Regions from separate parts of the Homo sapiens genome. Here region 1 is linked to region 2. The links come from fine-mapping of genetic effects on plasma protein levels. Region 2 holds a variant in brackets. A gene starts in the other region. All regions are shown on their reverse strands. Region 1 holds the start of SCGN (secretagogin, EF-hand calcium binding protein). Region 2 has its middle 30 kb from the start of MIR4686.

What was found. A credible set is the group of variants that fine-mapping cannot tell apart. PIP is the posterior inclusion probability: the model's chance that the variant is causal. Protein levels are from antibody-based Olink assays in UK Biobank. Linkage for the fine-mapping came from a reference panel and not from the study's own genotypes, which makes the PIPs less certain.
Region 1: SCGN starts here. The variant in region 2 is the best candidate, but not a certain one, in a credible set for the plasma level of the SCGN protein (UK Biobank, PIP 0.63).

What each region holds. Positions count from the first base shown.
Region 1 is chr6:25,645,213-25,657,594 of GRCh38, reverse strand. It overlaps SCGN (secretagogin, EF-hand calcium binding protein), which reads right to left and starts at 5,380. Exons shown (of 11, transcript NM_006998.4): 1 at 5,110-5,380; 2 at 4,143-4,213. The coding sequence starts at 5,191.
Region 2 is chr11:2,196,945-2,209,326 of GRCh38, reverse strand. No RefSeq gene overlaps it. Among named protein-coding and RNA genes, the nearest start is that of MIR4686, 30 kb to the right of the region's middle. RefSeq lists an enhancer at 4,054-4,652. The variant G/A (reference allele first, on the strand shown) is at 7,083.

The DNA of each region.
Region 1 (12,382 bases), not on the chromosome of region 2:
ACCCCTTGGTGGATCTGAGGCAAAGTGGGGCATAGAATAAACACTGGGAAAACTAAGGACCCAAGAAGATATTGCGTCAGCATAAGAACATATATGTTGGGTGCTTTTGCAACTAAAAGCACCTTTCACTTGTGTTATCTTATGGGTCTTCACTGTGAAACAGGCAGGCCAAAACATTATTCTAATAATTATTATTTTATGGATAGGAAAATTGAGACCCAGGAGGTTTAAATGGCATGTTGCTATCACACAGCTCTAGATGGAGAGACAGGGAATGAGCATTGGATTTCTGCCTCCACACATAGTTGTCCTTTCCCCACCGACCATGAGTCTTCTTTGGAGTGGGTCTTCAGAGACAATAGGTACATTTTTTTTATTCTCTGTGGAAGGTGAACAGGTTCTTTGAGACTCCAGGTTCTTCTGTCAACCAGGTTACCTCATGTGATACCCCACTAATCGTGGTGGGATTAACCTGTCTAGTTTCAGCACTAAAGATTTTGTGTGTGCTTACATTTGAGGGTTCATGTACCATACAGGAAAAGCACAATGGAAATCACTCAACAGGGTCGAACTTCACTTTGAAATTCAGCTTGATCTTTTAGATTAAGAACTCCACAAGTATAACATTCATTTCTTTATCTCTGGAACACAGGATCCATTGGATGAATAAATGATTCTTTATGATGGGCTGGGAATTCCCAAAGGAAGTTAACTAACATAGGTCATGTTGGTGAAAAATTAGATTTTAAAGTAAATAAATGTGAAGTCAAAGTAACAGTGGCCAGATTCTACATTACCTTTAGTTTGAGGACACAGAATCTTGGCTTCTGTCTTCTCAGACCCCTAACCCCAAAGCTCATGACTATCCCTTTGACCTAAAGCAAAAGAAACTGGGGCTTCCTCTGTTGTAATTTCCCATCAGTCCTTATCTGAGACGCTAGGCTACAGCAGGGTACTATAATCCCTGAAGTATTGAAAGAGGCCCAGGATGTGGTACAGTCTGTATGTGAGGGGTATGTACACATAGAATCTGATGTTTATCCATGAACTGGCTAAAATCTCAGCATTTGGAAAGAAAAGGTTTGCAGGGAGTAACAGAAACAGCAGCAATTGCAGCTGATGGTTCCATTAAGTCAATCCCCTCCGAGGCTCTGAGGAATAGGTAATTACAAGCAGGCTGGTTGCTCTCCTGGATAGACTAGCAGGCAGCTTGCTGTTAGAAACCTCAAAATACCTTCTTCTGAGATCTCTGTGATCCGCTAATCATCAGAGGAAAGTAGAGCTATTCATGCCTCTGAAGGTTGGCTTACCACTGCTGAACACCAGAGCAAGGGGCTGCCTGATTGTGGAGGCCTCCCTGCTGCTGGATTCTGTACTCACTGGGCATTACCAATCAAAAGCAGGTGTCACAATCAAATGGTGACTGTTCCTCAACTGAAGGGCCTTCCATTTTGGAAGTCCTGCCCTATTGTTAAGAACTTGCTTAAGGCCTACTTATTACTCATCAGAGACAAAACCCAAAATTAGGAATAGCTTCCTTAATCATGGTTGTCCAGGTAGCATGGAGTGCCCAGTGAAAGTCCCTGCAAACACACTCCCCAGAGTAATGCCTCAGCGTTTTGAAAGGCATCCAATGGCAGATGATATCATTTCTAGTTAAGAGTTCAAACTTATCATCCTGGCTCCAAAAGCTTTCTTCCCAGCCAAGTGCTCATGAGATGTGCCTGAGGCTATTGCCACAGCTCAGTGGGATTGGCCTAATTATATCAGAATCCCCTCTCCAAAAGTCACTGTTCCTAGAGGAAAAAAGGGTAAAAAAACATGCTAACTGACTTTGAGTGCTTTTAAAATGAAAGATCTTTGGCAGACCCCAAATGTATTTAAATACCTACAGGATGAGACCTAGGGGTCTGCATTTTAACAAAAAAATATAATTCTCAGGCATACTGAAATTTGATTTGCACTAGGTTAAGGATTATGAGAACTTCCAACCCCCGTTCCAGCCTCAGAGATATTTGCACTGAATGCAGTTGCGCAGGACACCAGTGAGTCCTTTGCTGTCCTCTTTCCTCGAGGATTATGCTTGCCCCTGTGTAAGAGCATTAGTCCATGGACCAGGTCTGAGATAGGGGCAATGATAAAAACAGCCAAGCTGCAAGAGATGACATCCCTCTTTTCTCTCACAATGGCAACAATGCTTCTAAGGTTAGCCAAAATCTCAGATGAAGATATCTCACAGCATCCTCATCTTAGTGCAGACCCCAACTCGATGAATGAATATTAGATACTCCAGCTTCAACAGTGACAGCAATTTTTCTCCTCCCTTTTATAAATGACTAGAACAAGGAGCCCTCTGAAAAGGTGAGAAGTTCCAGGTCCCTGAGGACAGATTTTTAGGAGCTGGCCATCCCATTTATTCCAAGATTTTGAATGGTTTTAACTTTGTCTTTTTGCTTTCCTCAAATACCCATGTCCATGATAGATAAGATGGGTTTCTGGAACACGATGAACCTTACATTTACAGATATAAGTAGAAGCCCTGTGGGCAAGGCTGGTGGGCTTCACCATGGGCTGCTAGCACGTGAAAGTGGCTGGCTAGATTGAAGCAGAAGCCTCACTTGGGGGAGGCTTCCTCAGCTCTACCTGTAGCTTGTGTAGGTACAAGAATGAAGGATAAAGAGGAGTGTGCGCAAGTGGTCTGACCAGAGGAAAGAAGGGACTTGTGTCTCTATCCTTCTCGTCTGCTGATCCTTTCACTTCACAGGCTGCACAGGGTAAGGGGTGGAGTGCAGGCAGACAAAGAGCAATAAAAGGTACAGAAAAAGGGAGATAAGAGACAAAGAAAAGGGTGAAGGAGAAAATGTGGAGAAAAGAAATGAAGGTCAAAAAGAGAGATGGGAAAGAAAGAAGAAAGGAGAAATAAAAGACATGGGGAGAGGAAAGACCAAAAGAGCTTTGAGAAGCAGAGAGACTGGAAAAAGAATGGGAAAACACAGAGACAGAGAGATGGAGAAACAAATGAGAAACAGAGACAAGAAAGATGGGCAACAGAGAGGTCAGAGAGAAAGGCAAGAAACAGTAGGAGATGAGAGCCATGAAACACAGAGATAAGAAACAGAAGTGAGCAGAAAAATGACAGAGATAGACATAAAAAAGAGAGACAGACAGAATATGAGAGGCAGACAGAAGTAGAGGGGGACCAAGAGATCTGTGTGGCTGAAGAAGGCGGAAGCCAGCCCTTTTGTTTCTGAACCAGCTTCCCCTGCCCCCCACATACCCTCCCCATGTTCTCAACAGTGGTGAAGAGCTCCTTGTTCCCTCACTGAGCTCTCACATGAGAATGTGATGCACTTCTATTCTTCAGATAAACAGCTGAATGATAAGGACAAACTATCTCCATCATTCATTTAAATTCAATTGTCCCTAGAGCGTCTCCTTCTACTATGAATGCCCTACTGGAGCTTTCATCAGATCGAGCCCATCCCCAGGCTGTCCTCCGCTCATGTGTTTCTGTGTAAAATTTTTCTCTGCTTTGATAGAGAGACTTTCAAGAGTTCATTTACATCTCCCAAGGACATATTTACCATCAGATGGACACTAGATAGATTGGCTTCCATTTGTATCTGGGCTCTGAGTATGCTGGTTGTTTTCTGGTTTGTCATTCCCTGAAAAATCTGTAACCTCTTCTAATAAAATGAATAATGGATAAATGATTTTAAATGGTTTGTGGTTTGCTATCAGAGGAGTATCATACATATTAAACACCCAAAATCTTAATGTGCTTAACATCTTTTCCAGCTTTTTGAACAAAGTGGGCTACTTTACCCCCAGGTATAAATCAATTAGCAGAGACATAACCAAGGAGACGTTCAAGACCAAGTTAACTGAGTCTACAGTTAGGATCTCTGAGTGGATGACAGATGTTACACTGAAAGTCAGTAACCAGCATGTCTAATGCTACAGTTGCACCTTTTATAAAAACTGCCTAAATCCCTCTATGTTGCTAGGAGAGGGGGAGAAATTACATACATGCAAGGAAGAAAGGAGGTGAGTTGGAATTAATAGGTACCAATCAATATAAGACTTGGATGTGCGTATCTTACTAAGAGGCATAAATTAAGGCTTAGTGTGCAAGTACTTACATCAGTACCCAGTTTCATCAACATGTGGAGAAAGAAAGCATCGAGTTCCTTCTCTTCTATGTAACCTTTTTCTAAATGTGAGAAAATAAACATAAATAATACTAACATATAAAAAACACATGACAGTATTTATCTAAATATGTTTTTAATCTCACAATTCATAAAGCTTCCCTCAACACTATTTTTTGTTATTCCAATAACAAAGTGCCAACACCTACCTCTAGAATACATGGGTTTGAACAGTAAACACTGTTCCAGAATACGTGCTTTATGCTAGGGTTTATATTAGTGCTTGGAAAAGGAAGGCTATTAAGTACATGAATTTTAATCAATGAATAAACGTGAACTTTCCAATAAAATTTAACCCCAAAATTTCTGAAGCTTGGAGAAACTTAACAGGTGTAAGTATTGAATCCCAGTTTGCAGAGTTAAAACACACCTTTTAGATATTTTATTTCTTTATTAATAAAAACAAATATTAAGTAGTTCCATTTTATTTTCAAGTAGTTTTTTGGTGGAGGAGTCGTTTTGAAAGCTGATAAAATTTATTCTCATTTTGAGAGAGTGAGGGGTGTACAGCAAAGTCACTGCGTAAAAGTGAGCCCATTTAGGGAAGGATGACTTCAAATAGCTGAGTCTCAGCCCACAAGCCTTGAACATATACAATGATATTAGTCATTGTATATACAATATATATGTATGTCTACCATATATATGGCGCGCTCGCACACAAAGAGAGATTGGAAAGGGGAAAGTGGAAATTCACCACCCAGAATTTTAACAAGGTATATAGATGTGTATCACCAGTATGCCAAACGTCTGTTAATGATACTGTATTAGGTACACTGCATTAACAACCCAGGTCGATAACTTTTCCTACAGTAAAGGGGAAACTCCAGGTCCTTTCAGCGGGCTGAGCTTGGAGCCACGTCTACACCTGAGTGTGCAAGTGGCTTGTTCTACTCACCATCCGCATCAAAGCGCTGCCAGACCTGCCAGAAGCCAGCGGCGTCCAAGCGCCCCAGAGTCGGTTCCCGGGAGCTGTCCATGGTGTTGACGACGAAGACCAGGCACCGGCGCGGAAGGACCTAGACAACTTTGGGAAGGACTCCTTCACCGTATTTCTTGACTTGCTCTCCTGCTTCTTTCGCTATCTGATTAGCTTTGAGTAACTGTTGCTGGGGAGGACGCGAGCGCTGCTGGCCGTGGCGTCGCTGAGCCGTCCCTCAGCCCTCAGCAAAACCAGCGGCTGGAAGCCCGCCCCGCTCCTGGCGCGCCTGTCCCCGCCCCGCCCTGCGCGCTGTCCTGGCAGATCCTGTCTGTCTCTGCGCTTTGGGGAATTCAGGAAGAAAGAAACTGTCTCCAGGCGTCCACGGCTCACTGCTTTTGCCCTTTAACTTGCTTCTCAGACTCGGAGAAGACATCCCTCTTACGTTTGACTCACTTTCCAAACTTGTGTCTCAAGGGGTTTTCTAGGGAGAGCTGCCTCATTTAAAGGGTTGCAAGAAGTGTCAGTGTTAGGGTCCTTTGGACTTGAGGATTTAGAAATGTAGTGTGTGGAGAGGGGAGGCGAGAAGGGATGGTGATGGTGGTAAGTGGTTCCCTTTAAGGAAGAAGTCAACAGCAATTATTGAGTCCTGATTGTATAGGACATACACATTGCTGTACCAAAATGCACTATAAGGACTTGCAACTAAACAGGGATACTGCAAGTCACTGTGATTTAAAGTAGCATCATTAGGATGCTGAGGAAAATATAAACTAAGCCGTACTCTGCCAGGAAAAGAGAGTCTGGGGGAGATGTGTCTGCCTGCAGGGTACTTAGGTAGAAGGCTTAGATGATTGTGTTTGGCTCCTAAGAGCCACATTAAGACCAAAGGATAAAAATCAGTTGGAGGAACACAGAGCTTTCTAACAATCAGGACTGTTCAAAATTGGGCAAGGCTTTGTGGAAACGTGTACAAACTACACTGATACCTTTTGACTATATATTTAGAAATTTTCGTTGGATAATCTATAGAAAGTGCTTGGATATTAGATAAGAAAGTTGAACCAGATGTAACTTTTCTTTATGGCACCCTGACTCTGGTTTTAGCATTCAGATTTATTTATAAAAAGCATGCATGTATAAGTCATCTAAACCAGAGTAGTGAAAAGAACATGACACTCAAGGTCAGATAGTCCTGGGTCAGGATCTGAGTTCCATTATTTACCAGCTTTGTGAACTGCACCATTAGTTCTCATCTCCCTAAGCCTCAATTTTCTTATCTATAAAATGAGGATTAAAACATCTGTTTTGGAGGGTTGCTGTGAGGATCAGAACCATACATAGTAATGCACAATGAATTATATCTGCTATGGTGTTGTAGCTGATGAGGGATGACTCTGTTAGAGAAAACAAGTAAAGTCTAAGAGATTGTCATAGCCAAGAGGAACCTAATGAAAAATGACAAAGAAATGTAATGTTTTATCCTGGGTGTGATGCCGGAACAGAAAAAGGCCATTAGGTAAAAATTAAGAAAATTTTAATAAACACGGACTTTAGTTAATAATAATGAAAAAAATGGTTCAGAAGAAAACAGTTCTGGGTTCAGGGCCCAGCTTTGCCTCTTACTAGTTGTGTGTGATATTGGGCAAGTTACTCAAAAGAAGCCTCACTTTCTTTGTAAAATGGGAATAATAGTAGTATTTACCCCGTGTTATTATCATAAAGGTCAAATTAAAAAATCATATAAACCTATTGTCACAGTATATACAGTAACATTCAGTGTAAGTTAGCTACTAAAATGATGAATCTTCCATACATACATACATATTTGGAAGACGGTGAAGTAAACTTCAGGATTTTTGAGGAGTGTGGCTTAGCCTAAAGGAAGAAAAGCAGTATTATCACCGATTAAGCAAGTGCTGGTTACAAAAATTGGAGAAAAGCATATGTAGCATAGGAGGGTGTAAGGGTTCAGTATCTGTAATTATCATCTGTGACTTTAGGAAATTAGTGGATACAATGTCAAGCACCAGTTAGGAAAAGTAATTGGTATGAACCCACCAGGGCTGATCTTGTTTTCTGATAAATAGTGGAAAAAGATAAAACAAGGCAGATTTCAGAAGTAATAATCAAGATCTAATGTGGAGGGATGGTTAAATAAATGATAGTAAATATCTATGATGGGCTTTGCTGCATACACAGAAATCTTGATTTTGAAGCTTGATGATCCAGAAAACTCAAAACATAAGGTTAAGATTAAAAAGCAAGTTACAAAAGTGTACATATATGATGACTCAATTCTGTAAAATAAAATACATGTTTCTACACATAGAAAACATGGAAGATATACATTAATGACATTAATGATATGTTTCTCTGGAGTGGGGAAGAGGGAGGCTCACAGATGATTTCAATTTTGCTATTTGTAATTCTTTTGTCTTAAAACTTTGTGCAGTAAGCATATAATGCAAGCTATTATACTTTTTTAAAGTTGTAAAAGTGAAATCTAGGGAAAGAAGAGGAAAAGTACAGCCGCAAAGATTACTGTTCTCAGGACTGGAGAACAAACAGAACTTGGAACACTTTCCAGGAGCCTGTCATCTGGAGCTCTCTGGGGAGCTGCAATCTCCATTCAATGACTTATTTCCTGTTTTCTTTGCATCCAAATATTTATCATGGCACTGGGTAGGGAGATACTGCTTAGGAATCCTGCATTCCCTCATAAAAGTTTCTCTTTGAGAAAATCATCCAAGCCCTTAACAGAGAAGAGAGCCAGTAGGAAGGTATTTAAAGATCCTACAGGAGACACCTGTAAGACTGTCTCATTGGGAAAGTTCTCCTGCCTAAAAATGGAGTGATGGAGGTGGGGATGAAAGAACCAGAGGTGGTTTATCAGAGTCCCTTCCTGTCCAAAAAGAGAACTCAGAGTAAAGCAAATATTCAGCAGCTGGAATCAAGTTGAAATACATTTTGCATCTTATGGATTAATTAGCACCTTCCACAGAGATTCTGATTTAAATGGTTTGGAGAAAGACCTCTATGCTGATATTTTTTTAAGTGTTCCCCTAGGGATTACACTAGAACCACTGACGAACCTTTTGTCTATAAGTTTCCTGCTGCTCATATTCTGGTCATTTTATTATTTAGGTATGGCATCTCTGAAGGATAATCGAGAAAAGAAAAAACTTCTAAAGAATTAACATTACTTTCTTATTAATACACTGCCTCTTTCAAAGAGAGGTTAGAATTTATACTTATATGTAATCCTGGTAAGTTTTGACAATTGATGGCTGAAACTAGAGACTAAAATCAGTTGTTTTTCTTTTTTCCCTACTGATTTCATTTTCTCCTGCAATCATTTCCTGCTTTTCTCATTAGCATAGCTAATTGATGGTTAGTTGCACAAGAAGAGGCAGTGGTCTGTAATTTGAAGCATTGCTAATTAACTCTGATGCATCCATTCAATTTTAAGCTAAAATATCTGCATCTTTTTACAAACTCAGAATGATATTTCTAACTGGAAATATAAACAATACTCATCTTCATATGTTGTTGAACATTCAAGCTCTGTAGACATCTCACAGACTGTATAGTAGACCTTAGAATTCAAAGAGACAGCCTTGGTTTAAAGCCACACCAGTTCCAAAGGGCCATGCAAGCAGAACAAAAGAAATTGGACAGTGGTTTTCATAAGATAATAAGAAAACACTAGAAATAGAGTTATTTTTAAAATATATACATTTTACTGTTTCCTTTGCAATCACATGAATAGTACAGATAATTTAAACAATATAGATTAGAAAAACTACAAAACAAGAAAGAAAACTTTCTTCCATAATTTTGACATCTAGAGATAACTAGCAATAATAACATATGGGTTTATGTCCTTACAGTAATTTTTTATATGCAGAAAAAGTAGATTATACTGCTCTGTAACTTGCTCATTTCACTTAATATTATGAAGCATGTCATTAAATATTCTTCTATGATATTATTTTAATGTCAGTATTATCATAATTTATTTAATATCCTCTTTTTAGACTTTTCAATTGTCCCTAGGTTTTCACTATCATAAACCTCTGCTGTTACAGCTAAATGTTTGCACACTCTAGTAATTATTTCTTCGGGATAAAGTTCTAAATGCACAAGTGCTGGGCTAAACAATGTATAACATCGTAAGTCTTTATAACATAAGGTTAAAAGTGGTCTCCAGCTGAATTTTACTGATTTATACTGCTATTAGCAGTGGAAGAGATACCTTTTTACACCATTACTAACAATAAAAATAAAAATCTTTGAATAGTTTAAAGTAGTAGTTAATAGTGATTTTATAGGTGGTTGTTTGGGGTAATTTGGGATTTTTTAAGAGGTGGGCTAAGTGTTAAAGTTAAAAGCCTATCACACTCAAGTGGCTCTTCAAAATTTCTTGTCCTCTCTCCCCTTCCTACCCCACAGAACATAGCATCTGGCACTGTGTCTTGCAAACAGTGACTATTTAGTATTCTATATTACCCCAATGATACCATCTTTTCTTAAGGAGTTGATATCACTAAATTATGAAAGAAGATTTTTGTAACCTGTACTAAAGCACAAAACCAGTGCTTTAAAAGCTCTAGGTCTGTTAAAGTAAGTTGAAACTGTAAATATTTTTCCAGCCACTTATACAGCCATCTTCTTACAAACTTAATAATACAAATGCATAGTGTAGCTTTTAAAATTTATTTTCTTCCTATTTTTCCCCTTCTGGGTCTACATTCCTAAATTATATAGAAGTTTTATCTCAGCACCAAGTCTGATACATAGTACTTACTAAACAAATGGTAGGCATAGCTAAATCTAGGTGTCTACACAGAATAAGGACATTATTATATTTATTTCCCAAATAGTTTGTAAATTTTGTTCACAAAATATTGATACATTAATAACCATTTCTTTTTTAACTTAAATATATATGTACTTAACTTGTTAATTTGCAGCTTTTTAAAATATAATCATTTCAAAGCTATAAATTTCCCTCCAAGTAAGGCTTAAGAGACATCCTATGAGTTTTGCTTAATTATAATTTTCTTCTGATTCCCACTGTGATTTCCCTTGGACCATGAGTTAAAGTGTTCCTAAATCCTAAATACACATGATTTATGTAACTTCTTTGTTACTGATTTTTAAATCTAATTGCATTGTAGGTGGAGAATGTGATCTATAGTAGCCATCTTTTGAACTTTGTTGAGGATTGATTTATGGCCTTTTATGAAGTAAATATTCATAAATTTTTAGTGTGTGCTTGAAAAAATATGAATTTCTCCATTTGGGGATGTAGGTTCTAGGTATGTTCATCACATCAGGTATGTTAGTTACATTGTTTAAACTTCTATATCCTTACTGATTTTTTGCCTGCTTGATTTAAAAATTATGGAGAAATATGTTTAAGTCTTCTATTCTGATGGTGGATCTCTCTGGTTCTTCTTGTCATTATTTGCATTCTTTGTTTTATGTATTTTGAGACTATGTGACTGGGTGAATATTGATTAAAAGTTATCTGTTCTTGGTGAACAAATTCCTTTTATTATTGTTTAGTGACCTTTTATCTCTTGTACATTTTTTTGCTCTATTAAAGTTTATTTTACCTAATATTATTATAGGTGCATCCACTTTCTTTTGTAGTATTTGCTTCATCTAGCTATTTTTATCCATTTACATTCATCATCTTGCATGTTTTAGATGGTATCCATAGAATATTTAGCTATTTTTACTTATCATAATTACTGATATATTTGGATTTATTTCATGTTATTTTTCCTGCCTTCTGTATGCTTATTTTTCCCTTCTGTCCTCTCTGCTTTTTGCTTGATAAAGATTTTTCATTCTCATTTTTCCTATTTATTAACTTGGAAATTATGTATTCATCTTCTGTTTCAGTTTTTTTAATCCTAGAGATATCAACATGCATACATGACTTTTAAAGTAAAAATTAATACATTTACAGCCCTTGCACATAACGTTAAAACCTTAGGATATTTTAGAACTGTCCACCCCATCCCATCTTACATACTATTGTTATTATGTATTTTAAGTGTATTTTAAATCCACAAAATATTGCCATTATTTTTTCATCTAGTAATATTTGTTTAGATTTTCCCATATATTTGTCATTGTTTTTGCTCATCTAATTCTTCTTGCATTTCAGAAATTCCATCTGGGATTACTCTTATTCTTCTGAAAGTGCATCCTTTAAAATCCTCTTTATTCGAGGCCTGTTGGAGGAAAAGTCATCATCTGTCTGAAAATGTCTTTATTTCACCTTTGCTCTTGACAAAAAACGTTGCCAGATATTGATTTTTGTGTTGACAGCTACTTTCTCTTAGAATGCTGAGATTATCTTTCCCTCAGGACCTTCTGAATGCCTTCGCTGCTGTTGAGAAGTCAGCTGTTTGTCTGTATGTAATTCCCTTGCAGGTCTCCGTTGTTTTGCTCTGGCTGCTTTAAGGATTTTTCTCTGTCTTTGGAGTTCTGTGGTTTTAGTACAATATGTCTAGAGATTTTTTTTATCCTGCTTAAAATTCATGGGGCTACTTGAATCTGTGATTTGATATCTCTCATTAGCTCTAGAAAAGTCTCAGCCATTTATTCTTTAATTTCTCTCTCTCTCCACTCCTTCCCTCCCCCTAACCATCTCTCTCCGCTTTTCTCCTGTGATTCTAATTAGAAATATATTAATCCTTCTCACTCTAAGTCTCCTCCTCATCATTACTATTCATATTTTCTGCCACTTTGTTTCTTTGTGCTGCATATTGCATAATTTTTTCAGATCCATCTTTTAATTCACTGATGCTCAGTGCAGCTATATTTAATCAATTGTTAAAGTCATCATTTAAGTTTTTAACATTATATATTTTGTTCTTTTTAAAATATGTTTGATTACGTCTCGTAGTTTCTTGTTCTCTCCTATTTTCCATCTTTTATTGATTTAAACTGATTAAAAATAACTATTGAACATTCTATTTTTTATTTTTCCCATCTCTGAAGTCTGATTCTACTGTGTGTTATTCCTGCTAGATCTCACTAATAGTGACTTATTTTCTTATGTTATTTTTATAATTTTGACTGTATACATTCATAAGTCTTGGAACTTTTTCTATGGAAATACTTTAAAGCCTAGGCTGAAGGTGAATTTCTCCAGAGAGGATTTGCATTTGCTTATACCAGATGTCTATGGCATTATCTGCCCAAGGTAACTTTAAACTAAATTCATAGA
Region 2 (12,382 bases):
CTTCGCCTTCTCTCCATCTCCTGAGTAGGGCCCCTGCCCTGCTCTGACAGGGTGGTCACCTTGCCCCGCTCCGTGCCCAGTCCTGAGCTGGCAGTGTCTCCAGCCTTTGCAGCGTGGCCCTGTCTGCCTCTGTGTGTGTCTGGGCTCCTCTCATTTGGCCGCCCTGCCCGTCTACACTGGTGCCCCCCCACCTGCACTGTCCACCGGGCCAGGCTCTGTCTCTGCCACCTGTTGGGTGCTTGCCAGACTCCGCCATCCTCTCCGCTCCCAGCTTGCGGCTTCTGCCTCCACTGGCCTGGGCCTGCCCTGCCGCCGCCTCCTTGTGCCCTGGCTGTCTGCTGCCCCCTCTGCTGCCCATTGGCCAGCCGCTGAGCTCCCTACCAGGAAGAAAAAGGGCCAGGCCATGCCGGACCAGGACTGGGCACAGCCTCCAGCACTCCAGGTGGACAGGCTGAGAAGCGCGGCGAGCGAGGCAGCCTGGGACGGGTGATTTCTGGAACATGGGGCCAGCCAGCCTTGGCGTGAGGTGTGGACAGCTGCCAGCTTCTTCTCAGGGCTGCTCACAGGCAGCGGGGGAGTGACCCCGTTTTCTGCTTGGCACCTGGCTTGCCATCCCGCTCTACCCCAGGGCACTCAGACCTCAAACTCCTCAGCTGCCTGGAACACCAGGGAAGCCCAGGCTATGTGAGCCTGTGCCCAGCAGGCCAGGGGGCACCAGGACATCCCCCTCTTCTCTGATATTCCAAACCTTCCTGCCTTTGAGGAATGCCTCCCGGTCCTTCTGGTTTTCTAGGCCATGGGCTCACCCTGGTCTGCCAGCTCTGGAGCTCTGAGAATATTCCTGCAAAATGCACATCCCAGGCCTGGCCGCAGACTGTGAGTCACAGGTAGGGCCTGGGATCAGCATTTTCATGGATTCTGCAGGCACTGCTGAGAGCAGCTGCCCGGGGTCAAGCCAGGGCGTGGGCTGTCCTCATCAGGCTCCCCTTCTCAGAGGCCGCCCTTCTGGCCTGGCCTGCACCTTTCCCCACTCACTGCCCACCAGCTGCAGACACACTCACTCCTGCCTCAGGGCCTCTGCACGGTGCAGACATTCCTCCCACAGCTTCCCAGGGAGGCTGAAGAGCAAGGAACCTGCCTCTCCTCACGGAGCCCTCTGCTCCCGCCACACGGCTGGATTTTTCTTGGATGCCAGCGTTTGACATCTCTATGTGAGATCTGCTTCTTCCCTGATCGTGACATTCCCTCCACCAGCAGGCAGCCGCATGAGGACCAGCGCCTGCTCACCGCTGTGTCCCTCCTACGTGCGGGGCAGGCACCCAGCAGCAGGTGTTCGGTGCCCACTGGGAGCGTGCCTGGGCCCCTGCTCCTGCTCCTCAGAGGGAACAAACAACTGACCTGCTGATGGAGGCTGTGAACCCACACGGGTTGTCTGCAGACGTAACGGGGCATCTCCTATGACGCTTCTGGAGAGGGCAAGGCTCCACGGCTGAGGGCTTTCTTTGGGTGACAACCATGTGAAATGCCATGACCTTGTGCCACCCCGTGGCAGATGACTCTCTCAGAAGGTGGTGCGTACCCTTTCCCCATTATGGTGTGGACACGCAGATGTGGGGCCTCTCCCACCTCTTACAACTGGGGCAGGCTGACAACCACAGTAGAAGGGACACCCTGGAACTCCCAGACCACATCATAAGAGGCCACGCAGCTTCCTCCTGGAGCTCTCGGGCAGCTGCCCTTGGAGCCTGACTGCCATGCTGTGAGGAAGCCCAGGTGCCACCGAGGCGGCACATGCAGATGTGCAGCCAATGGCCCTGGCAGAACCTGACAAAGTCAGCACCAGCCACCAGACCTGCCAGCAAGGATGCTCTGAGCCGACGTCCACTCCAGCTGTCGTCTGACTGCCCACGAGACACCCTGAGTGAGCACTGCCCAGCTAAGACCCGTCAACTCCAGAACTGTGAGAGGCGATGGTTCCACGACTTCCTGGCTGTAGTCACTGCTGTTGGGCAGCTGTGGGTGACCCTGAAGGGACACTCTGATAAGGGACATCTGCCTGCATGTGTGACCTGAGTCCCAGCCTCAGCTTTCTCATGTGAAAAATCAGGACCACGGTAGACCCTACCTTATAAGGCAGCTGCAAGAGTGAAATACAATGGAAAATGTACACAAGATAGGGTGGCTGTTCGACGCCCTCTTGGTTCTTCAAATCTAAGGCCCATGTCAAGTTTTACCATCATTTTGCCATCATGATGAGAAAAGAAATGAGACCAGCCTGACCAACATGGAGAAACCCCATCTCTACTAAAAATACAAAATTAGCTGGGCATGGTGGCACTCGCCTGTAATCCCAGCTACTGGGGAGGCTGAGGCAGGAGAATCACTCGAACTCAGGAGGTGGAGGTTGCAGTGAGCCGAGATCGCACCATTGCACTCTGGCCTGGGCAACAAGAATGAAACTCTGTCTCACAAAAAAAAAAAAAAAAAAAAAAAAAGAAATGGAACTTAAACAAGGAAATAGTGTTTTCCTTGTTTTGTTTCTTGCTTATTGAAAGCACCTTGCCTGATGGGTTGAGGGAGGGATTTTCATAAATCACTGTTGTATACACACGTAGAGAGAAAATACCAGCAAGTAAGGGTTACTGTCCCCACATTTGAGTCCACTTCCTCCGGGTCAATTTTGTCTAGAGTCATTGCACCGAGGCTGTCCCTCATACACTCTTCCTTTGGGCCATGTACAGGGCTGGGGGACACCCGTTCCCCAAGAGGGGCCTCCACGATTGACCCGGGAACTTTTGCTTGCTCTGCCGGTATCTAGATCTTACCAGCAGGTGCCAGCAAATGATCTCTGGACGGCGCCCCAGACTCACTGTCCTTCCCTAGATGGGCCCTTGAGGCTTGGGATGGAAGTGTAGAGGGGTCACTGCCAGGTGATACAGTCAGGTTCATCCGTGTTGAGCTGGGGCCACCATGTCATGAACCTGGCTGTTGGCAGCATTCACATGAAACCTGCTTTCAGAGACAATAAGTGTAAACAAATGTCTTAGGATCAGTGCATTGTGTCCCGGATAAGCCCCTTCTCCCAATGTCCCTCCACAACACTCACACGAGGAAAGGAGGCTGGGAGGTGGGGAGGCTGGGAGGTGGGGAGGCTGACAGGCTGGGAGGTGGGGAGGCTGAGAGGTAGGGAGGTGGGGAGGCTGGAAGGTAGGGGCGTGGGGAGGCTGGGAGGTAGGGAGGTGAGGAGGCTGGGAGGTAGGGAGGCTGGGAAGTAGGGAGATGGGGAGGCTGGGAGGTAGGGAGGTAAGGAGGCTGGGAGGCAGGGAGGCTGGGAAGTAGGGAGATGGGGAGGCTGGGAGGTAGGGAGGTGGGGAGGCTGAAAGGTGGCAGGCTGGGAAGTGAGGATGCTGGGAGGTGGGGAGGCTGAGAGGTAGGGAGGTGAGGAGGCTGGGAGGTAGGGAGACTGAGAGGTAGGGAGGTGGGGAGGCTGGGAGGTAAGGAGGCAGGGAGGCTGGGAAGTAGGGAGGTGGGGAGGCTGGGAGGTGGGGAGGCTGAGAGGTAGGGAGGTGGGGAGGCTGGGAGGTGGGGAGGCTGAGAGGTAGGGAGGTGGGGAGGCTTGGAGGTAGAAAGGTGGGCAGGCTGGGAGGTGGGGAGGCTGGGAGTTGGGGAGGTTGGAAGGCAGAGGGGCTAGGAAGTGGGGAGGCTGGAAGACTGGGCTGTTGGGAGGTAGGGAGGCTGGAGGCTGGGCAGTAGGGAGGTGGAGAGGCTGGGAGGTGGGGAGGCTGAGAGGTGGGGAGGTGGGGAGGCTTGGAGGTAGAAGGTGGGCAGGCTGGGAGGTGGGGAGCCTGGGAGGTGGGGAGGCTGGAAGGCTGGGAAGTAGGGAGGTTGGAAGGCAGAGGGGCTGGGAAGTGGGGAGGCTGGAAGGCTGGGCTGCTGGGAGGTAGGGAGGCTGGAGGCTGGGAGGGAGGGAGGTGGGGAGGCTGGAGGCTGGGAGGGAGGGAGGTGGGGAGGATGGCTGGCTGGGATGTGAGGAGGTGTGGAGGCTGAGCCTTGGCAGAATGTGGGCTTTTTTCAGCGAATCACTAGCCCCTGAAGACAGCCCAGGTCAGGTGCAGCACCGCCCCAGAGGCCAATTAGTGATTTGTCACCCTCTGCCTTGGGGAACAAGGCTGCCAGGAGTCCTGCCCCCAGCCACAGCATCCAGCTATGCTCCCTGCCCTCTGGCAGGAGGTAGGGAAACCTCTGCTTTCACATCTGTGGGGAGGCCCCCATACTTGGCCCCTGCCCTTCAGGCCCAACCCACCCTGTCATGGAATCCTCTAGAGTCCTTGAAGGGGCAGAGTCCCACCCCCACCAGGAATTCCATCGGTGATCCTAGGAACGGAGTCCCGGAAGGCCTGCTCCTACGGCCCTGGGGGCAGGAATTGAAGCAGGCGCTCCCTTTAGGCAGCGGGACAGGATGGTGCCGTACAGACACTCCAAGTCCCTCTCCGTGTGACTGGATGTCACCACCTTCTGACCCTCAGGCTCCGGAGGGTCCTAGGAGAGGATCCCCGCCCAGGGTTGTGGAGAGGAGCGAACCGGATCCTGGGGTCAGGCTGCGTCCTGGCACCTGGCACACAGTAGGGCTGCCATCAGGCATGTCCACCCATGCTGTGGACCTTTGCTACTGCCAGGGCAGTGGAAGGGGGCACCTAGGCTGTAGCAGGGGAGCTCTCAAGGGCCCCCCCTCTGTGCAGTTCAGCCGAGGCCAGGCCTGTCCCATCAGGGTGAGGCTTCCCTTGGGGTGAGGGGTCCTCCTCACCTCCTGATCGTAAAGGCCCAGGGCTGGGCTAGGGACCCCGGTGTTAAAAGGGCCAGAAAATGCCGTCCAGGCAGATAGTCCCAGGGAGAGGGCCCAGAGCACCTGCCGCCAGGCTAGGGACGCACGAGGGGGCCATGGTGTCACCCAGCACCCAGCACCCCCCAGAAGCTCCTGGATCCCCGTTAAAACTGGGTGATCATTAAGTGGAGTGCGGTTGTGTCACAGCCCCCAGAAGCCCCACCCACCACTCCCCAGCCACCCCTGGGAGCAAGGCCCTCACCCAGAGAGGTGGGGTGTCACCGGCCTGGCCAGAACCTCAGGGTGAGGCAGGGGCCTCGGGTCACTGCAGGGGGCCTCCAGTGGACCCAGGGGTGGGGCTGACCCCAGCCGCTCCCTCTGGAGATAGAGTTCTGGATGTTTCTACCCTTGCTCCGACTGCCAGCCGCCCCTTGGGTGGGGCCCTTTGATGTCCCCGAACTCACAGGTGGGCGGGGCCCCGAGGCCTCCCCTGGCCCTTTGAAGCTGGGAACTCTTGTGGCCCAGTCCCAGCAGACACAGGCTAACACCGCGTTCACCCTGGAGTCCACCGGCTCCCCCAGCCCAGCCCCAGGATCCCAGGCCTGCTCTCCTCAGGGGTCCCTGGAGGGCCAGTTCCCAGCCTGTGGTCCAACATCCTCACCTCCCTGAACCTCCATAGCAATAGCTGCTGGTTTGGCCCCTGGCTGAGCTGTCTCCTGGTCTCCCTTGTCTCCATTAGCACCCTGTTCTTTAGGTAAGGAAACTGAGGCACAGGGGCTTGGGAAGGCAGAAGCCCCACCCACGGGAGTCATCAGGCAGAGGGAGGGAGGTGGGATGGGAGAAATAGGAGGCCACGGGCTTGCAGGGGTCTGTATCCCAGAGTCCCCCTAACCTGAGGGTACCTGCCCCCCAGGCCTCCCGGTGACCTGGCGGAGGGGCCGGCGGCCAGGTCCCAGGCTTGCTGTGCCGGCACCCCACAGAGGCACAGGGGCAGGGACCAGGCCTTATCAGAGCGGCCGCCCGCCACCCGCCTGCAGCTGACAGAGGGATGGGGAGACCAGCCGTAAACCCGTCTGTTCCCCTAAAGGAGAGAGGGAACAAAGGCATAGGCTAATAAAACTCAGATCAAAGCTGACTTATCTCTTCATTTTGCTATTAAAATTTAGAATCAAAAGGGAAGGCGGCCCCTTTATGGTTCAGGATTACAGAGATTTCTGTGCCTGTGGGGCCCTGCAGGGCCCCCGCTGCCCATCCCAGCTTCAGAGCCCTAGCCTCGGGCTGCAAGGGTTCCTGGAGTTGACCTTCCCAAGGGCACTCCTGGGACATGGGCTCCAGGTCCCTCCTGGGCCTCGGGGGGCCACAAGGAGGGAGTGAACAGCTCTACCTAAGGCCCCCTTGAGACACCAAGACACCCCGTGGCTGACCTCCCCACACCGATGGCTCTGCAGGTGAAGGGGTTTCCTGGCCTGCGCCCTGCGCCCTCTTGTCTCTGCAGAAGACCTCCCTCGGTCCCCAGTTCCTGAAACTCCTAGACCCCTCTAGGAGGGAGACAGCCAGAGGGGCAGGGCCTCTGCCAGCTGCACCCAAGTCAAGCCTGGAGGCCACAGGGCTGGGTGGGTGGGTTCCTCTCCTCCATTTCTCGGCTGTCCCAGGTCTCTGGGGTGGGGGGCACCACTCAGCACCGGATGGAGTGGAACCCCTGGAATCTTGGGCAGCCAGGCAGTCACTCCGGCAGGCCCTGCGTCCGCAGCAGAGGCCCCTGTGCACTGCGCAGGTGACACGCGCGGACCTGTCTGCACCTACCCAGGCTTGCTGTGACACACGGTCCAGTCCCGTGTGTGAGCACGTGCCCAAGCTCCCGTCGGCCGGCGCCCCTCCCCCATGCCCAGGGGGGCCCCGCACGCTTCCTGTGCACGCTTCACCTCTTCTCTAACCAACGCCTGAGCTCCCTGCTCCCTGGTAGGAAGCTGGCGGCCCTTCCCTTCCAAACAGGCCTGACAGGTTATGACACTGAAGATTACAAACCTCCCCCAGGGTGGGTGGGGGAGGGGCGAGGAGGGAAGGTAGACTTCGGGGCAGGGGCTTTGAATGGCCTTCAGCCCCTACCCCAGATGTCCCGGTGCCCAGAGGCTGGACCCCGTAACCTTCATCTCCACACTCCAGGGGTGCAGGACATTCCTGGGTGGAGTGTAGGCCCAGGGCCAGGTGAAGGAGCCTTCCCTAGGTGGCTCTTGCAGGCACGGGCCAGGGCGGGGCAGGC[G/A]GGGCAGGCAGGGCAGTCCTGCCATGCCCCAGGTGCCCAGGGCTACCCTCTCCACCATGCTCTGAGCCCTGGCATGAGCTGGGTTTGGAGGGAGGGGTTGCCACGTGGATGCAGGTTCCAGGCATGGATGAGGGTGGGGTCTGGCCTCAGCCTCCTTGCTGCCCAGACATTGCATTTTTGGGCAGGGCCTGGCAGACACCTGGGATGAACCAAGCACTAGAGGACCATGTGGTCTAGAACTCATGGGGGTCTTAATGGCCCCCATGGGGGAGGGAGAGGAGGAAGGGTTGAGGGATCCCCTCTGTTTCAGAGGAGTAGAGGACCTTTCTGCTGGGCCTAGAAGACAAGAGTGACTGGACAGCACACAGCTCCTAGCATCCCCTCAGCGGGGTCCTGAGATTCCCCTACAGGGAGACATTGTACAGATGTGTGCACCCATTTATCTACTAAATCTTAATGTGGTATACTGATGCTTGGCAGAGGACTTAGAAGGTACCCAGTTAGCAGTGGGCAGCCCCCCTACCATGGCTAAGCCCCAGGTGGGCCAGGGTTTCAGGGTTACGTTAACTAGCTACCAAGTCTGACATTGGTAAGGATTGGGGTTTCAGAGAACTGGAGGTCTGTTAGGTCTGTTTACAAGAGGGTCAACCCAGGCAAATGTCCAAGCTGGCAGGGACCAGAGTTGAGTCTTTAGACTAAGGATATGGTGTTTGGAATACAGCAAAGGTCTTTCTTCTCAGTTTCCATCCACCCATTTATCCATCATCCCACTTATCCATCTATCCATCTATTCATCCATCCATCCATCCATCCATCCATCCATCCATCCATCCATCCACCTCATCCATCCATCCATCCATCCATCCATCCATCCATCCATCCATCTATCCATCCATCCATCCACCTCATCCATCCATCCATCCATCCATCCATCCACCCATCCACTTATCCATCCATCCATTTTGCCATCCATTCATTCATCCCTTTACCCATCTCTCCCTCTCTTCCTCCCGTCATCCTTTGATCTGTCTGTGCATCTATCTTTAGGCACCTATCTACACATTTATGTATCTATTCATCCATCTATCCATTAACTCTCACCACTTTTATGAGCAGATGGGCATGGGTTAAATCACAACTTATCTCTTATTAGCTTAAGAGCTTTTGGGGTCCAGAGAGTACATGTCTCAGTGTGCCCATAATCATATGGGAGGGGTCCCAGAAGTTCTTTCATGAATAAATCTTCCTAAAGCAGTTGGACTGTTTTATTAATTCAGTTGCTTTGAAAATATCTCTTTTTCACCTTCATAGAGAATTGACCTTTGGTTGTTGGTCGACTCTGAGTCCAGGTTTGTTCTGCAGTTGGGTGGTCCCCGTCCTCTCTTGTGGGGGCTGCTCGAGGGTGAAAAAAGGAACTGGCAGATGACAGGACACCCCCGGGAAGGTGGACAGATGTGGGTGGGCGGCTGGGAGGAAGGGCTGTTGGAATAGGCTGTCTGGGGCCAGGAGGCAGGCAACAAGCCCAGACGCCAGGGCAGTCCTTCCCCAGCTGATGGCCTTGCCCATGCGTCCACCTCTGCAGCCTCCGTGTCTCCTTGGTGAAGTCTGGGAGTGTCTGCTTTGTGGGAAGAGGGTGAGGATCCAACAGGACCGTGGCCCATCGTGGGGGTTCTGTAAAGGGCGTAGGTGTGGCCTTGGTGGAGGTAGTCAAGGCTAAATGAGGGCACAAGTGTGGGCTCTGACCCCATACAGTGAGTATCCTTATAAGAAGAGACCCCACAGCACTTGCTTGCTGTCCATGTGAGCCTGGGGAGGCCCCGACGGGGAGCCAAGAAGCGGGTTCTCACCAGCAACCGCATCTGCTGGCCCCTTGATCTGGGCCGCCCAGACCCCAGAGCTATGGGAAATGAATGCGTAGGGTTTAAGCCCCCAGTCTGTGGCCCTTTGTTCTGGCTGCCTGAGTTGACTGAGCTCTCAGGATAGCGAGCGTCTTTAGTCCCGGAGGCCGCCCACCAGGGCAAGATTGTGCAGGCCACTGCTTTCTCTGCCCTGGCCTGTCCAGAGCCCTGGTCGTTCTGTGCCCGCTCCCTGTCCAGCCCCTGCCTCTGTCTTGCCCTCACCTCCACACCCTGTCTGTCCTGCTCAGCACAGGGGACATTTTCTCCAGGTGGAACGGCCATCCAGTGCTCACCGGTGTGCCCGGGTAGGTGCCAGGGTGGAGGATGGGCTGGGACACGGGTGGGGAGGGGGATCTGGCCTGCCTTAGGATGCAGACTTAGGCCTCTCGGAGGAGCCCCGGTCCTATCCAGCTCAGGAAGGGGGCTGCTGGGCTGAAACAAGCAACTGGGGAGTCTGGGGACCCAGAAACACCTTGGGGCTCTGGGCTCACACCCTGCTAGCTGCAGGGCTGGCCCCGTGAGCCATCAGAGGAGCCAACAGCGCACCTGCGCTGAACGCTGCACCATGAGCTGACCCCGGGCCCCTGCCACCCTGCCGGCCATACCACATTCAGAGTGGGGCAGCATGCAGTAGGCGCTTATAAAGGCCTCGGCCAGAGTGGCCCAGCAACAAGTCTGCAGCAGGGCAGTCATGGGATGGGCCCCAGCTGTGGCCTGGGGGTTCTGTCCAGGGCCCACTGCAGCAACGGGCTGCTCCTGGAGGTGGGGCATTCTCTGTGCTCAGCCTCAGAGGTCCCTGGTGGATGCCAGGTCACCTGACTGTCCAAAAGTTCCAGCAAAAGGGCCCCTGTCTTGGGAAGGCCCAGGCTGAGGAGGGGAGGATGGCCCGACCTTAGGGGACATAGTCAGAGACTATGCTTTCAAGCCTCCATGGCCTCCCTTGCACGGCAGAGAAGTGGGTATAGAAAGTATGGTCAGGGAGCCCAGTGGAGACGGAGCTGGCCAGCCAGGAAGGACCTAGGTATTCTGGGCAGGAGGGTGAGAAGGGCTCCCTCCTCCAGGCCTGCCCAGGCCGCCTCCTGCTCCAGGCTCCGCTAGCTGCCCCGGGCTCCGCTAGCTGCCCTGTTCCCCGCACCACCACGTCCCCTCACGCCTGCGGCAGGGAAACAGGAGATGCTGTGGTTTTGTGACGTCTGCCCTCATGTCCCCAGCTGGAGGCCCTCTGCGGGTCAGCCTGTCTGACTCTCACCCACTCCTGGTTGTCCCTGTCTGCAGGTGCTGGCTGTGCTGGACAAAGGGCTGTGCCTTGGCTGGCAGTCCTCTAGGCCATTGGTCTGTGGCTGTCTGTCTGTGGTGGTCAACCTGCCCAGGGCAGACAGTGAGCTATGCCAGCCAGGCCCTGGCTCCCACTGCTCAGCTCAGAAGGTCCGGGGCTAGGTATGTCTGTGAGGGCTGTGCTGTGCCGACTTCGGACACCCAGGCGCGAGACCCTGCAGGCACAGGTGACTTTTGGTGCTGGAACAGTTGTATTCCCAGCCAGTAGCCAGGCCTAGCGCTAGTTAAAGGAGGGATGCTGGCCCTGTGGAGGCGAGAGGCCCAGCACCAGGTGGCCTCGTCTTGCTGTCCACCAGAACTGGGACGACATGGGGCTGGGCTGGCCTGTGAATGACCACATGGCAGGCCCAGCTCCTAGTTCTGTGGAGCAGGGGCCACGACCCCTTCCCTGCCAGTGGCTGTGAGGACAGGATCCTGGAGGGGGAAGGGATGCACCCGACATCCCTGGGGTGGGTTTTGAGGAGGAGCCCTCCTGATCCCAGGTGAAGATACTGGCCAGGCCTGGTCCCTGGACAGCCCCTAGAAAGGTGCCGCCTGCCAGGTCTCTGGGTCCTTGAGGTGGGCTCAAGGCCACCTCAGCAGACGACTCATGCCATGTCCCCACCCCGACGTGCATGCCAAGTCCAGTGACTGTGGGGACTCCAGGGGCCCCCACTGGCCCCCTCCTCTGTCCCCTGAGCTGGGCTTTGCCCTGGGAGAAAGGAAGCAGCGAGGTCCTGAGTGGGATGGCACAGGGCACGTGGGGTGTGGGTGATGGAGGACGTTGAGCTGGGTGGGGAGGGGTGGGGCATGTGTGCGGCCTGGCCATGTGGATCCTCCCAGGGGAGCTGAAGCCCAGGGGCCAAGATGCCCCGGCAGTTGGTGCCTGGTTAGGGAGCTGGGGTTGCGGACCGGCCCCCGTTTGTCACTTGCTGGCCTCTCCCCTGCTACCCTGCAGGCTGGGCTGTGGTGCCACACGGTGGTCTCTTTCTGGGCTGGGGTGTGATTCTTTCCTTTCTCCTGTGGTGTAAGAGTGCACAGCTGTGCAGGAGGCCGCCGAGGGCGTGTGTGTGACTGTGTGTGCTGCGCGTAGGGCCGTGTGTGCTGGCATCTGCGCACGCGTGTTTGCAGGGCCCGCAAGTGTGTGTGTGCATGTGTGGTGTGTGGCATGCGACGTGCCTGTAGAGAAAGTGTGTCTGGGGGCCCCACGTCCTCAGGCCTGGCGCCCATTGACCCCCGTTAAGCCCAAGCCCCATGGCTAGATTGTAGGCGGGACTGAGTTGCTTCGGAGACCTCTGCACTCGACTGTGGGAGTCTTATGGGGGCCTCCTGGGACGTGAGCAACCCCTGCCCTGCCTGGCAGTGTCAGCACCTCGGGCGGCCCACGCCTGGCCCCGCCACCCTTCCCCTGCCCCACTCCTGTGGCAGTCACGGTTGAGCCGCACCTCCTGCGGTCCTGTCCCTCCCTCGGGGTCCTGGGGACCAGCCTGGTTCCCTGAGAGCAATCTGATGGAGACCCCCTGAGTCCCACCCCAGCTCCCCTTTCCTGACCCCTTCCCAGCCCCTCTCCTCCTTGAGGAACCAGCACCCTCCTCCTGCAGCCCGGCCACCTGGACATGGGACGAGGGCCCCACCGTGTGGCCACCTGGACACCCTGCAGGGCGGCTCCTCGGCCTGACTTCTGCCTTCAGCACCCAGGGCTCCTCCTCCTCTCCGACTGTACATGTGAGATGGGAGACAGAGACACGGGGACGGGGACACAGAGACAGGGAGACAGAGATGCAGAGAGATGGAGGCGGGGAGACAGAGACGCAGAGAGACAGAGACAGAGAGACAGGGAGACAGAGACACAGAGAGACAGAGATGAGGAGACAGAGGCGCAGAGACAGGGACACAGAGATGGGGAGACAGAGATGCAGAGAGACAGAAGAGAGATGGAGGTGGGGAGACAGAGATGCAGAGATGGAGACAGAGACAGGGAGACAGAGACACAGAGAGACAAAGACAGGGAGACAGAGACACAGAGAGACAGAGAGATGGAGAAGGGGAGACAGAGACATAGAGATGAAGACAGAGATGAGGAGACAG